2 separate regions of the Homo sapiens genome follow, and region 1 is linked to region 2. Evidence: fine-mapped expression QTL. A gene starts in region 2. The other region holds a variant in brackets. All regions are shown on one strand. Distances are between the middles of the regions. Region 1 holds the start of LOC107984374 (a long non-coding RNA gene). Region 2 holds the start of LINC02725 (long intergenic non-protein coding RNA 2725).

The links. PIP is the estimated chance that this variant, and not a neighbour inherited with it, causes the effect. A credible set is the group of variants that fine-mapping cannot tell apart.
Region 1: its variant is the best candidate, but not a certain one, in a credible set for the expression of LINC02725 in blood mononuclear cells (TOPMed, PIP 0.75).

The regions. Positions count from the first base shown.
Region 1 is chr11:128,052,270-128,055,194 of GRCh38, reverse strand. It overlaps LOC107984374 (a long non-coding RNA gene), which reads left to right and starts at 460. Exons shown (of 2, transcript XR_001748082.2): 1 at 460-899. The variant C/G (reference allele first, on the strand shown) is at 1,471.
Region 2 is chr11:128,094,069-128,096,993 of GRCh38, reverse strand. LINC02725 (long intergenic non-protein coding RNA 2725) reads right to left here and starts at 1,235. Exons shown (of 6, transcript NR_183639.1): 1 at 895-1,235.

The sequences.
Region 1 (2,925 bases), 42 kb after region 2:
TTTGACAAGTGCAGGACAGTTCCTCATCAACTATGCTGTGATCGTACAGTTTGCTGAAATATTTTCATTTCTAGCATATTATTATATTAAGAAAAGAAAGTGCTTTGTGAAATTGTTGAGACCAAGAAAAGCAGCCCTAGAGTGGCCTGGAGGGAAAACATTGGGTCTCTTTATGATATTACTCAAAGGCCTTTTAGATCCTGGAGAGGTGACAAAGTCACCCAGGAGAGTGAAGGATAACACAGTAAAAAGTCTTATGTAAAACTGAGACAGGGCTTTTCCTCTGGAAGAATCTTCAACTTCTGGTGCTAAGTCATCTTCCTATAGCTTCCCTGAAGCAGGAATTAGCATTGTAAACTCTTTCTAGACTGTAGGGTGAGTAAACTAGCCTCACCCAGTGAAGCTCTTGCAGAGACAAGAGCAGATGGCAGACATTCAAGCAGCAAGCCCTGGCTCCATCCACCTGCACCTTATGTGGCAGCAACTCTGGTCAGGGAGCACTCAAGAGGCTGTGGAAAGATGCAAGAGAAATAGGACATGTCCAGTGAATCATCCTGGCACACATATGAATGGTTTTTTAACTGTGAATCTGCTTATTTCCACACAAATAGCATAGGAACTGAGGGAATCAAATGAGAGCCACTGTCGCTCTGACAAAAAGAAAGAGAAAGGAAGAGAGACAGAGGAAGTAAGCGTTTGTTTCATATTTACTTCTTGAATATTCCCTAGTGCAAAGCACATGTATGTGATCCTGCTCTATGCTCATGAAATCCATGCATCATCTCTTATATTAATTTTACAGATGTGGAAACTCAAATAAAGAGAGGTGAAAGAGTCCCCAGGACAACACAAAAAGGTGACAGAGCCACTGAATTTAAATCCATACCCTCTAATTCAAGGTTAGTTCTCTTCTCTATAACTGCTGTTTCCAATAGTTTCATGGAAACCACAAAATATTTTCTAATTTACCCTAAATATTTTAAATATTTTCATGACATTCTTTACTCCAATGTATAGTTACCCTCTTTCCTGAATTCTTAAACTCTCATCACATTTACTTAAGTAGCCTGATATTTAATTTTTTTTTTTCAGTGAGATGGTAAGTCTCCAGGGTGAGAGCTGTGTTCAAGGTGCCCTTTTTTCATTCAAAATATCATGTGCACTTATTGATTCATAATAGGCATTCAATAAAAATTTGCTGAATCAAAAAGAAAAAGAAATCCAGATATTCTGTTTTATTTCCATTGTCCTCCTCCTTCTCATTTTGAGCTGTCTTCATGTTTCAGGCACTACGCTTAGCACAATTCATACCTTATCTCATTTAAACACAATTATTATCTGCTTTTTTTACTTAAGAAAACTGAGACACAAAGACATGGGGCTTATTTTCACAAGGCCACAGAGCTTGAGCGTTCATCAGCCTGATCCCAGAGCCCAACCTCTTAACCATTACAGGATTTTGTCTCAAGA[C/G]CACCCATCAATGCGGTAATGGGATCTAAAGTTGAACCCAAGAGCTCTGGCTTTTTGGCTGCCAACCTCATCATTAACCCCTCCACCAGGGGAAATCAACCAGCCAAAAAGCTGTGCATTCTCTCCCCAGTATTTCCTTCCACCTAAGCCAGCATGGTATTCCCCAGAGTCACTTCCCACCCTGGCACACAAACCACAAGTAAAAAAACTGGAGCATCAAACACCAACATTAGCAGGATAAATACTCCATCTAATCATCCTACTAAATCATCAGACTGAGTCCCCAGAATTCTAATGCTCTTTCACTCCATTCCCTCTGCCTCTCTTGAGGCTTTAATTTGAGCCTTTCCCTCCCAACTAAAACCAGATATGTAAAGATGGTATTATATTTCTTCACAGCTAATAGCCAGACTATGAAATCATCCAGCAAGCAACTCCCAAGCCATGTGAATCAGTCGTAACACATTTCCTTCATTTTTATAACCCTGGAGATGGAAGAAGGGCCAGGAGGTAGATGAAGGGGAGGGTTATTGCCAGGTATTGTTAACTTTGTCCCTGGGTAATTGAAGTAAGAGCAGTCCAGGTCAGATTAGAAGCAAGATCTTGGAAAAGCTTGGATATAACAGGGACCTGGTAGACCCATATTGGATTGATTATGAAGCAGGAAGTGAAATCTGACATGCCTGACATTTAACACCCTAACCACATCCTGTCTCCTAGATGATGAGAATAAAGATATTGTATATTCAGTGGCACTGACATTTTTATGCCTCTTAACGAAAAGGGAAACAACTTTCTGGGACTGGTTGAAAGGATAAGGAAGCAGAGAACACCTTCACGGCCTTTAAGGAAGATAGGGGATTTGAGTAGGAAGTTGTATAAGGAAGGAAACATCAAGTCCTATATTTTGGGTGAATAAAGCAAACTAAGTTGCATCAGCCTGGGCAAAGAATGTTTTGAGTGAGGAAAATAAATGAAATAGCAATTGAAAACAGAAAAATCCAGTAATGATTTCTTTATTACCTGAAATACTTGAGATTTTTCAATGTTTTCACTCTCAACGTTTTCAACAATTTTCAGAACTAAAGGTATTTTAAAACTTGTATTAACTGTTGAAGGCTACTTGAGGATGCATAGGATTGAAGCACTGGTAGGTGTCTAGCTTAATAGCACATCTCAATAGCACATCTTGTATTTATATAATACAGCTTGAGGATTTCAACAGGTCTCTCAAAATGACCCCCTTCAGCAGCCCAGTCCACCTCCAAGTGCCCTCTTCTAAACAACTGAAAATAAGCAGGAAACAATTTCTTGTTATCGCTGGGAAAGAGATAGTTCTATTTCCCGAGTAATCGGTTTCCATGCATAAACAGCAAGAAAATATTCTTTTTGCCATTCTGAACCTAAATCACTCTTGCTGTAATTTATGATCATTTTCTCATATTCCATATTAAA
Region 2 (2,925 bases):
AGAAGCCCCATAATTTTTCCTCTGTAATCTTGAGGCCCAAGAAAGCTGGTGGTGTAATTCCATCCCAAATCCAAAGGCCTGAAAACCAGGAAGGCACTGGTATAAGCCCTGGTCTGAGTTCAAAGACCCAAGAACCATGAACATCAAAGTCCAAGGGCAGGAGAAAATGGATGTCTCAGCTCAAGCAGAGAAAGAAACTTCCCCTCTTTTGTTCTATTCAGTCCTTCTGAATATGGGTGCCCACCTGTACTGGTGAAGGCAGATGATCTTAACACAGTCTACTCATTCAAGTGCTAATCTCTTCCAGAAACACCCTCACATACGTGTCCAGAATAAAATTTTACTAGTTTTCTGGGGATCCCTTAGCTCAGTCAAGTTGGCATATAAAATTAATAATTACAGATCTACCTCTTATCAATTTGGCTTATGTATCTCCTTAAATCATACCTAATCTCCAGATAAAGATAACAATAACATCGTGATTTCACCTAACATGATACAACAATTTTCATACTACCAAATACACAGTAATGTCTTCCTCAGAAAAGGAGATGAAGTCCTTGAGTGACATTTTTCTCCTGATGTTCCATAACTTAAATACTATGAAGTAAAATGAACAATACTTAAATCCTTATACAAGAGTCAGTATAGCTTATGTTACCTGATATGGAAAATCAAAAGAGGATAAATAACAAAGATAGTGTTTAACATATGTATATACACATACATACAAGCATATTCATAACAAAATTAGGAGATAATACTCATGACAATTATAGTCCTCATTTCTGGAACTGGCCACATAGTTGTAGCTAGTATTTATAACTACCTTCTACTCCTATCCTGTACAACCCTTGCCTTCAGCAACTCCCTTAGCTGGTCCTGTTTCCTTACCTGGTAGAAGGACTCAAATCTTCATTCCTTGAAGATTCTGCCCCATGAGTTGTTCCGCCTGAACTGAGTTATTGTAGTTTTCCACTGGCCTTAATCGCAATGTGTGGGAACACTAAGGGTGTCCTAAGGGAACTTCTGTATTCCAGATGTACTCTCCCTCACCCCCATGGTGGAGCAATTTCCCTCTTGTTAGTCAGATCAATCACTGTAGCCCACACCATAACTTCCTTATTTGCCTGTTGAATCAGCAGCATGGAGAGCACAAGGTGGCTGGGTGGCAGTCTTAACTCCCAGGTCAAGGAAATTATTCTTGTGTCTCCTGGTGAAGCATTCCATCCTCTGGAACTAAGACGTCTAGGCCAGCAGAGCATAATGTCATGGAAACAGGAAGTAAACATTTTGCTTGTGAGTCACTAGGCGCAGTAGTGAATGATGCCACTCCCACTTCCATTCTTTGATTCCTGGACCCATGAATTCTGGCTACCACATAAATAGCATCATATATTTGACCCTGATTCAGACCATATACAGCCTTCTGGAGAACCATTCCTGCAAGGTATTGCCACCTAGGTGGCACTGTAACTGAGTCTTCAAAAGACAATTCCATCAATGTATCAGGCCAGAAGCTTCAGAATGGTGGAAAACATAGTAAGACCAATGATTTTCATGTTCCTGGCCCTATTGCTGCACTTCCCTTGCTGTGAAGTGAGTTCCTTCATCAAAAGCAATGTGATCTGGAAGACTATGAAAATGGACAAGCCAGTGAGTTAAGTTCACAGATGGTAGTTGTGGTGTGCAAGAAAGGCAAATCCATATTCAGAGCATCTATTCCAGGAAGGGCAAAATACTGCCCCTTTCATGACAGATGTTTTCTAAGGTAATCAATCAGCCTGCTACCAGGTGTTGGCTAATCACCCCAGGGAATGGTGTCATATTAGGAGCCAGGTGTTGGTCTCTGCCATTGGGAGATTAGACACTCAGTTTTCTACAGTCCGGTTAGCCTTGTTGAGTGGAAGTCCATGTTTCTGAGCCCATGCGTAACTTCCATCCTTGCTACCATGGCCTCTTTGTTCCTGAGCCCAGTGGGAAATGACAAAGTTGGCTGGAGAAAGAGACTGATTTGTATTCATCCACACAATGGGTCATTCCATCCACTTTAATGTTAAAATCCTTCTCTGCCAAGCTCACCCTTTGGTGAGCATTCACATGAAATACAATATATCCATTATTTTTTGCTTATTCATAGAGGTGTGCCCACATCTCTCTTCCCCAAATTTTTTGTCACCAATTTTTCCATGTGTCCTTTCTAAGTTTCTGATCATCCAGAAAAAGAAGAACACTCGCTACAGACCATGAATTGGCAGGTAATCACCTCTCTAGCCATTTCTCTTTCTAAGAAAAGTGAATCATCAGGTGGAATGGTTGAAGTTCTGTCCACTGGGAGGATTTTCATTCACCACTGTCCTTCAGGGATATCCCTGAGAGGGGCTATAGGGGTGCAGTTGTCCCTTTTTGTGTTATGCCTGCATATTTTGCAGAATCCTCTGTAAACCAGGCTGAGTCTTCTCTTCCTCTGTCAACTGCTCATAGGGAATTTTTTAATGACTTCATAGCTGCAGGCTGGCAGAGAGCAGGAAGTGTAGCAGGAGTGGGGATCATGGGCATTTGGGCCACTTCTTAATGTCACTTACCTGTGCCTTCAGGACCTGCTTAGCCCCAGTCACATCCATTTGATGGACGAGTGTTGCTATGTACTCTCAACTTTATGGCTTTGTGGGTCAGGTAGCCACCAATTCATGATGAGCAGCTCAGGACATATGATAACATGGTGGTTCATGGTCAGCCATTCAGTCTCTATAAAGGCTCAATAGCTGGCCAAGAGCTGACTCTCAGAGGGAGAGTAGTTATCTGTGAATGACAGCATAACCTTACTCCAAAATCCTCAAGTCTTGCACTATGGTTTCTTTATAGGGTCCTGCCAAAGTCTCCAAACAATATCCCTATCTGCAGTTGATACTTTGACACCATAGG